Linked DNA regions of Homo sapiens. The protein of the gene in region 2 interacts with the protein of the main gene of each other region in a pairwise test. Each region holds a gene or a part of one and is shown on either strand. Other genes may lie near its edges.

What was found. Proteins that work in one complex are often made in the same cells at the same time.
Region 1: the proteins of G3BP1 (region 2) and ATXN2L interact in binary tests that used the Homo sapiens proteins (3 or more experiments, as listed by UniProt).

What each region holds. Positions count from the first base shown.
Region 1 is NC_000016.10:28,824,956-28,829,908, reverse strand, and holds part of ATXN2L (ataxin-2-like protein), read right to left. Parts: intron 4,544-4,953; coding exon 4,507-4,543; intron 4,286-4,506; coding exon 4,229-4,285; intron 4,140-4,228; coding exon 4,068-4,139; intron 3,670-4,067; coding exon 3,519-3,669; intron 3,048-3,518; coding exon 2,923-3,047; intron 509-2,922; coding exon 417-508; intron 52-416; coding exon 1-51. UniProt on the Homo sapiens protein: Involved in the regulation of stress granule and P-body formation.
Region 2 is NC_000005.10:151,791,570-151,796,522, reverse strand, and holds part of G3BP1 (ras GTPase-activating protein-binding protein 1), read right to left. Parts: intron 2,365-4,953; coding exon 2,274-2,364; intron 1,045-2,273; coding exon 948-1,044; intron 1-947. UniProt on the Homo sapiens protein: Protein involved in various processes, such as stress granule formation and innate immunity. Plays an essential role in stress granule formation.

The DNA of each region.
Region 1 (4,953 bases), on a different chromosome or scaffold from region 2:
CGCAGCTCTCGCTGACGAAACTCTTCTGAGTTGTCCTTTTCTAAGGGCACCCTGAGACAGCACCCACAGACCACCACCATCCCAGTGCCAGGGGACAAAAGAGGAAAAAAGGAAAAACATTTCAACAAGTCCAATCACCAGTTCAGGCATGGAAGTATTTAATCCCTTCAACATCTGGGTAACGGGCACCGACTGCATCCCAGGTAGAGCACCAAGGCTTATCTGGGAATGTGAGAAGCACTTAAGACGCTTAAAACCTTTGAGGGAAGAATTCCACAAGGCAGAGTAGGAGTAGGGATGGCGACCCTGGACACCCAGAGAAAAATGAGCAAAAACTATGTTCTACCTGGAAACCTGTCTTCACTTAGTGACCCCATATCACCAACACATCACCTGGAGAGCACCAAGATACTCACGTATAAGAAGAAAGACTGCTATCATAGGTAGTCTTCACACCGTAGTTCTCCTCATTGAACTTGAACATTTCATTGGGGTCCCATCCATTGGACTGGGGAGGGAGGAAGGTGGTTTTAAAACCCAGCAGGAAAAGCAACGACAAGTCACTTCCCTTCCATCAGGTTAAAAACTCCAAGATGTGAACAAATTGGCTGGGCACAGTGGCTGAAACCTGTAATCCCAGTACTTTGGGAAGCTGAGGCAGGAGGCTCTCCTGAGGCCAGGAGTTTAAGGCCAGACTGGGCAACACAGCAAGAGCTCATCTCTAGAAAAAAATAATGAAACAGCCGGGTGTGGTGGTGCATGCCTGGGGTCCTAGCTACTCGCTACTCAGGAGATTGAGGAGAGAGGATCACTTGAGCCCAGGAGTTTGAGGCTGCAGTGAATTATTATGGCACCACTGCGCTCTGGCCTGGGCGACTAGCTGGGCGTGGTGGCTCATGCCTGTAATCCCAGCACTTTGGGAGGTGGGTGGATCACCTGAGGTCAGGAGATCAACCTGACCAACATGGTGAAACCCCGTCTCTACTAAAAATAAAAAATTAGCCATCCGTGGTGGCGCATGCCTGCAGTCCTGGCTGAGGCAGAAGAATCGCTTGAACCTGGGAGGCAGAGGTTGCAGTGAGCTGAGATCGAGCCACTGCACTCCAGCCTCCAGCCTGAGTGACAGAGTGAGACCCTGTCTCCAAAAAAAACAAAAACAAAAACAAAAACAAACAACTACAACAAAAACCCGGGCAACAGAGCAAGCTCGTCTCAAAAATAAACGACAAAACAAGAGTGGAAAAAAAATTGGAACGTGGCTGGCAAAAGTAATCAACTAATAATTGTAATTAATAACTGCAATTTTTTTTTTTTTTTTGGAGACAAAGAGTTTCACTCTTGTTGCCCAGGCTGGAGTGCAATGGTGCGATCTTGGCTCACCGCAACCTCCGTCTCCTTGGGTTCAAGCGATTCTCCTGCCTCAACCTCACGAGTAGCTGGGATTACGGGCATGTGCCACCACGCCCAGCTAATTTTGTATTTTTAGTAGAGATGGGGCTTCTCCACGTTGGTCAGGCTAGTTCCAAACTCCCAACCTCAGGTGATCTGCCCGCCTTGGCCTCCCAAAGTGCTGGGATTACTGGTGTGAGCCACCGCGCCCGGCCTGCAACTGTTAATGATTACTAACAACTGCAGCAGAAATTATCAATAACTAGTAAACCTGAAAAGTCATAAGACCTAACAATTCTATTTCCAAGACATCCCAGAAAAATTCTGGCACATGTGCGTGGGGAATATATGTTCTAAAAGTCCAGCAAGGTACTATTTTTAGTAGCAAAATAATGGCAACCAAATGCAGATGATTAAGGAAAAGGACAAATACAATTTGCTGTGTACACGTGTGTGTGTATATTTGAAAACAGCACACAACAATAGAAGCAAAGAACTAGATCTACGTACAACCATGAGAAGTTCGAAAAGGCAAGAAAAGCAAATTCTTGTACAAACTAAACATAACAAAACAATAATATATTCATTCACAAGACATTTGTTTCTCAACAGATAGTCTCGCTATGATGCCCAGGCTGGAGCACAGTGGCCATTCACAAGTTGAGTCATAGTGCACCAAAGCTTCAAATGATTCTCCTACCTCAGCCTCCTGAGTAGCTGGGACTACAGGTGTGGGACCACCACGCTCAGCTCTATTCATGAGCGGTTTTTATTTATTTTTTTGAGACATCCTCACTGTCGCTCAGACTGGAGTCCAGTGGCACAATCTCAGCTTACAGCAGCCTCAAACTCCTGGGCTCAAGTGATCGGAGCTCCTGCCTTGGCCTCCCAAGTAGCTGGGACTACAGGCATGAGCCACTGCGCTCAGCCTCATGAGATTTTAAATGCCTCAGAGTAGCTGATTTTGGGAAGAGAAATGGGCCTACACATTAATCTATACTTTTTGTTATGTTGAAAAATAACGTGATGCAAATGCTAGGAGTGGTTAATTATAGATAGTAAGAGAGTAAGTTGATGTTTTGGTTTTGTTGCGTGTGACACGGTCCACCCAGGCTGGAGTGCAGTGGTATGATCACAGCTCACTGTAGCCTCGACCTCCCTGGGCTCAAGTGATCCTTCCACTTCAGCCTCCCAAGTAGCTGGGACTACAGGTACATGCCACCAAACCTTGATAGCTTTTATATATCTTGTTGAGACAGGGTTTCACCATGTTGCCCAGACTGGTCTCGAAATCCTTGCCTCAAGTGACCCACCGGCCTTGGCCTCCCAAAGTGCTGGGATTACAAACATGAGCCACTGCACCCAGCTAAGAATAGATATTTTTACTTTGCTATTTTCTATACCTTTCTATTTGTTATCTGACTACCATCAATGGGCAACAGTAAATATTTCCCTCCCCACTCAAATGAACCTCACTGTCAACAACCCATTCTGTCTGTCCAGCTCCCAAGTTCTCAGGGAAGGAGGCTATACCATGTCAGACTCGAGGTCATAGTCGTCGCTGTTGCTGTCACCCCCCTCCCAGCGCTGAAGCACCTTCTCTTTGTGTTCCCCATTCACTTTCGAGTTCATGGCAATGGCTGAATCGGTGAACTTGTCTGTGGGGGCAGAGGTGAAGATCAGGAGTCAGGCTATATTTCACAGACTTCTTTCCAATATCCCCCAACCCCACTCTCCGTAAGTAGTTCAGGAACAAAGTTTAAGAAGTCCAGAGTACGTGTGCCCGTGTGTTAGGATGGCCAGGGGGTGGGGAGGCAAGAGAAGAAGAGTATAAAAAGTCTATCAGTACTATGATTCCAAAGAAAAAAGAAGTTAAAAACCAAGCAAAGAAAATATGAAGAACCACAACACAGACAGGAATTCATCGCATTATATATTAGACATCAAGACATATTTTTAAGAAGAAAAATCCACCCACTTCGCTCAGGAAAAAAAAGGCATTAAAGCAAAACAAACAAACAAAAACAAAAAAACAAACCAAACACATCACCATGTTCCACCTGCACACAAACTACCCTCTGTCCTCTATGCACACAGAGCAGGTCTGAGGTAACAGCCTAGGACAATACCTTTAGTAGCATAGTTGAAGTCAACATTTCGGAAGTGAACAAGCATGACATCACTTGGCTTAAACACCATGGTGTCCACAATGTCCTCCCGACGAGGGCCACCTGCTGGCTCAGATGCTTTCCGGTGCACAGCATCCACGGCTAGTTCAAACTACAAACACCCCATTCCCCACACCCATGGGTCAGTTTCAAGAAAAGTGAAGGCAAAAATAGAACTGGATTTCTCTTAAATAGAACTGGATTTCTCTTACCCTTCCCAAACTTTTCACAACACTACATCCTCAACATGCTTGGAACCAAGTGCATTGTTTTCTCAACATCAGCCACAGGACTTAGCAAAAGTCTCACAAAAATTTAAACTTAAATATTTTAACATTAAAGTACCCAGCCCTCAAATTTGTCTTTTTTCCCTGCAGCACTATTCAGCACAGGCCTACAGAAACAACTAAAGGCATACTCTGACATCACCCAATTGACACCTTCAATGAGCCTATTTCATTCTCCTCCTACTCTGCAACTCCAAAAATAATTAAATTTGAGTACACTGACCTTTGAGCTTAGCGTCTTGAAGATACCCTCATAAGTGGTACCATTTTTCACCTTTACATCACAAGTGGAGCCCTGGCAGAGTGGGAAAAATAAGAAGAGTGTCTCCAGAAAGTAGATGCATTACGTTCCTTAAACAACCCGGGGGTTAAGTACCAACTTACCACAACAGCTGTAAGGAAATGCAGCATTCTGGAATTGTTGTAGACGCCTTCAAACACCTGTCAGTTAACATAAGAGGGAGAATTAAAGGAGTAATCAGTCAACACCTCATTTTCTTTTCTAAATGCCCGCCGCACTCTACTCATTCTGCCTTGTGTGTGCCGGGCCCACAGCCCTCCTGAGTACATTAGACTCTATCTAGACCTAATGTGCCCTATATTCCCACATTATGCATCTTTTAGGTCTATGTATCTTAAACAGGGTGGGAGAAGACACTCACAGGTGACTGTGGGGGTCCCTTTCCTGTGCTCTGTCCCCTATAAAAGAAAACAAGAAATTACTTAAGTCTGTTCAAGCCCTCTTAGACCACTATGAAATTAATGTTAAATCCTAGAAGTATATACCACCTGATGATGCTGATTTAGACTACAAAATTGTTAATCAGTAAGATTTTTCTATTTTTTTTGAGACAGGGTCTCCCTCTGTTGCCCAGGCTGGGGTGCAGTGGCGTGATCTCAGTTCACTGTAGCCTCAACCTCCAAGGCTCAAGTGATCTTCCTGCCTCAGCCTCCCGAGTGGCTGAGACTATAGGTACGAACCACCACTCCTGGCTTTTTTTTTTTTTAATTTTTAGTAGAGATGGGATTTCCCATCTGTGTTGCCCAGGCTGGTATCGATCTCCTTGGGCTCAAGGGATCCTCCCACCTTTGCCTCCTAAAGTGCTGGC
Region 2 (4,953 bases):
GCCAAGGTGGGCAGATCACCTGAGATTAGGAGTTCCAGACCAGCCTGGCCAATATGGCGAAACCCCATCTCTACAAAAACACAAAACTTAGCCGGGCATGGTGGCGTGCGCCTGTAGTCCCAGCTACTCAGGAGGCTGAGGCAGGGGGATTGCTTGAATCCAGGAAGCGGAGGTTGCAGTCAGCCAAGATCGCGCCACTGCACTCCAGCCTGGGTAACAGAGCAAGACTCTGTCTCAATAGAACAAAAACAAACAAAACTGCAGATGTTTTGCCTCCTGAAAGTCTAATTCGGTAGGTTTGCAGTGGGACCATGAATCTTCATTTTCAACCAGCAACCCAAGTGAGTAACCTGATTAGTTCATCACACCTTAAGAAACACTTGAAAACACCCTTCAGGCACTGAATATTAACATTCAGTATCACATGGTAACAAGTAAATATGGATTTCTATTGCTATCAAACACATTTCTGTTCTAATCACAAGGGGGAAAAAACCCAAAGGTATAATGATGCACTTACTAACGTAATGAAATTCTTTATTGCTACTTAACTCACATATTGGTATTTATATCAATTTATGCCCGATCTCTAATTAAATAGGTCTCTGTCCACTTCATATTCCCTCAAAGCATTTAATACCTCAATACATTCAACTCTTGATAAACAATATGCAAGTTTTCACTTAACACCAAGAAAAAACTAAACCAAAAAGAAACTGATACTATTTAAACTAAGCAATAGTAGATTGCCTTCATAGTACAATTTACTATTAACAAACAAGTTACATATTTTTGTTTAGTCAAAATTACCAGAAACAAAACCATTCTTCTGAGAAATTATTATTTTGAGGTAATTCTCAGAATATGTAAATGCCCTCCAACAAAGGGAAAGACTAGACAATGCAAGTTCTTATGCAGCCCCGGACATGTGAACAAAATCTTCTTACCTGACAACTGCCTGATCATAGAAAGTTCCAGAATCATCAGGTACCACCTCAGGTGTTTGCTGTCTTTCTTCAGGTTCCTCTACTTCTTCTTCAGACTCTAAGTGAGAAAAAGATATTTAAAGTAATTTGTACTTACTGAATTCACATATACATTAACTTTCGCAATGTTCACAAAACAACAGTGAAGAAAAACATATATAAATAAACAAAGTAGGACAATTTGGTAAAATCATGGCACTGACTTTAAGGACAGAACTAAGGCTTTGAAGAACAGACTTTTTTTTGTTTTTTGTTTTTTGAGACGGAGTCTCGCTCTCTCGCCCAGGCTAGAGAGTGCAGTGGCGCGATCTCGGCTCATTGAAAGCCCCACCTCCTGGGTTCACGCCATTCTCCTGCCTCAGTCTCCCGAATAGCTAGGACTAAGGCGCCTGCCACCACGCCTGGCTAATTTTTTGTATTTTTAGTAGAGATGGGGTTTCACCATGTTAGCCAGGATGGCCTCGATCTCCTGACCTCGTGATCTGCCCGCCTGGGCCTCCCAAAGTGCTGGAATTACAGGCGTGAGCCACCGCGCCCAGCCTTAAGGATAGACTTTAAGGCTACTGTAGTGTCTTGGTTTTTAAGAGCATGGAGCCTAATGCAGGCTCTGTCACCTTACTGGCTACGTGACATTAGCCAAATTATATTAGGCAGTTATCTAATGCAGGCTCTACCACTTTACTAGGCAAATGATTGCTTATCTGTAAAACTGTATTACAAAATAAATATACTCTCAGCCATATAAACAACACTCAATTCTACTATTTTGGAGAAAATTTTCCATAAGTCTCTGTGTCTACACATCTTCCATGCCTACCCTTTCTTCTAGACTGTCTTTCAAGAACATTTATATAGCAAACAGCTTTGAAAGAGTATCTCCCTCCAGCACAAAGAGTAGTCATGTTTACTGCCTGTTGTAATAGATCTGGGTTCCCTAAACTCAGTGTCCCATGCCTTTAACACAACCCACTGCAGTAGAAGTATCACCTAGCCTTCTCCATGACATCCTATTGGTAAATGTGGCAAAAATACTACTACTGTCGCTGTGAGTTAGCCTGTCTCCTTCTGACCTAAGAGTCTTATGTCTTCTACTAACATCCATGATATAAGCTAACCTGTTAGCAGCTTCAAGTAGGGTAAAACCTCAGACTCTTCATATACCATAATTAGTTATTAATGAAGAACAGAGTGTAATGAAAACAGTAAAGAAACCCATAGTCTCTTAAGGGCAATCGGATGCCATTAAAAAAAATTTAGACAAGTAATTTAAAGTATTTCACTACTTACCCTCCTGAGGCTCAGTGACAAACCCACCAAAGACCTCATCTTGGTATCTGAAGATATCATTGTGAACATAGAATTTATTTGCAACAGACCCCTGCAATGCCAACAGAAAGTTTTAATTTATTCAACAGACTTTTAGAAAGTCAAATCACTCTACACCATTGGTGACTGGGACAAGTCTGCCTCCATGAGACATCTGGCAATATCTGGAGACATTTCAGTTTTTGTTGTTGTGGGGTTCTGAGACAGGGTCTTGCTGTCAGCCAGGTGGGAATGCAGTGAGCCACCACAGCTCACTGCAGCCTTGACATTCCAGGCTCAAGCAATCCTCCTGCCTCAGCCTCCTAAGTAGCTAGAACTACAGGGGCGCGCCACCATGCAAGGCTAATTTCTCTTTTTTCTTTTTTTTTTTTTTTTTTTTGAGTAGAGACGGGATCTTGTTATATTGCCCGGATTGGTCTTTAATTCCTGGGCTCAAGTGGTCCTCCCGCCTCAGCATCCCAAAGTTCTGAATTATGGGTATGAGCCAGCATGCCCTGCTGACATTTCAGTATTCACTACATGGAATGCTACTGACAACTTATAAGGTTAGGGATGCTGCTAAATTCCTACAATGCACAGGACAGGCTCCCACAACAAAGAATTAGTTAATCCAAAATGTCAACAGTGCCAAGACTGAAAATGCCCACTCTACAATAGCCGGTAAAAAGACTACACTCACATACATTTTGTTTGCTCAGAACACTTTACCTCACCACAAGATAAATATCCAAAAACTGACAAAGCCCTAAGCATGTAAATGCCACAGCCCACACCTCAAAACATTATAAGGCAATCATATCCCGGATGGGCACAGTGGCTCATGCCTGCAATCCCAGCACTTTGGGAGGCCGAGGCAGGCAGATCACCTAAGGTCAGGAGTTCAAGACCAGCCTGGCCAATATGGTGAAACCCCATCTCTACTAAAAATACAAAAATGAGACAGGCATAATGGCCCACACCTGTAGTCCCAGCTGCTAGGGAGGCTGAGGCGGGAGGATTGCTTGAACCCGGGAGGTGGAGGGTGCAGTAAGCCCAGACTGCACCTCTGCACTCCAGCCTGGGCGACAGAGTAAGACCTTGTCTCAAAAAAAAAGGCAATCATATTCCTAACTTCAGCAGATATTTAAAATTCCCCAAGTCTGTCTCCAAAAATATTGATATAAACACTCAAGGGTAGTGCAGCCTGAAAAAGATTGCTCGCAGTAGGTATAAGACACACCTGAGTGCAGATCCAATTATATATTATGAGTTATTCAGTTTCTAAGGCTGTTACTCCTCTGTAAAAAGAAAGGTACCAGCTAGGCACAGTGGCTCACTCCTGAAATCCCAACACTTTGGAGAGCTGAGGTAGGAGAACTGCTTAAGCCCAGGAGTTTGAGACTAGCCTGGGCAACAGTGAGTTTTTTGTAGAGTGAGTCTCCACAAAAGCAGAAACAAAAATCAGCCAGGAATGGTGGCCTGCACTTGTGGTCCCAGCTACTTAGGAGGCTCAGGTGGGATTATCATTTCAGCCCAGGCAGTCAAGGCTGCAGTAAGTCATGATCCTACCACTGCACTCCAGCCTGGGTAACACAGGGAGACTCTTCTCTCAAAAAACAAAAAAGAAAGATATCAACATATACCTCAATACTCTCTGTATTAAATGAGACAGTTTATATAATAGTGTATTATACTAAGAAGTTAGATACTTCCTTTAAAAGAAAAAAACTGTAATTAAACCTGTAATTCACAATCATACTCCATGTGATTCTTTGCATATTTAGAAGTCTACCACATCTTTACATTTTAATCTAAGCCTTCCTCTAAAAATTATGACTATAATTGGCTTCATGTAATTTTGCACAGACAAAAAGTTATCTCATATTCAAAGGTTAAAAGATTTTAGGCGTTTCAGGTTTGCTATCCTAAAAAGAAAACTTAAGATTAATGCTAGAGAAAACAATGATTTAATCAACAATTTCTTACTATGCCATTTCTATATACATGCTTAAGCAGACAGGATTCCTAACCTTGTTCAGTCTAGACCAATCCGGAAGAAAACACAAATGCAATCATTCAACATAAACTTGTCGTCCTTTCATAAGTATAACTAAAAAGAACCAGGCCTCCTTGAAGGAACAGCTGATTCAAGAATAGGGACTGGGCCAGGAACAGTGCAAGATGAACCTGGAAAATATTTTGCCATAAGTGTTCAAGAAAGATAAAAAGATAGAGAATCTCCCATCCTTCATTTACAAATCAAAAAGAGAAAAAATAAGGCTGGGCATGGTGGCTCACACCTGTAATCCCACTTTCGGAGGCTGAGGCAGGCAGATCACTTGAGGTCAGGAGTTAGAGACCAGCCTGACGAATATGGTGAAACCCCATCACTACTAAAAATACTAAAATCAGCCGAGTACGGTAGCACACGCCTATAGTCCCAGCTACTCGGGAGGCTGAGTCAGGAGGACAGCCTGAAACCAGGAGGCGGAGGTTGCAGTGGGCAGAGATGGAGCCACTGCACTCCAGCCTGGACGATACAGTGAGACTCCGTCTCAAAAAAAAAGAGAGAGAGAGAAAAGATATTTAACTTTACAGTGGCAAAACCTAACTAATCAAAATTCATATCACAACTAAATGACATAATATGCCTAATGTGAAG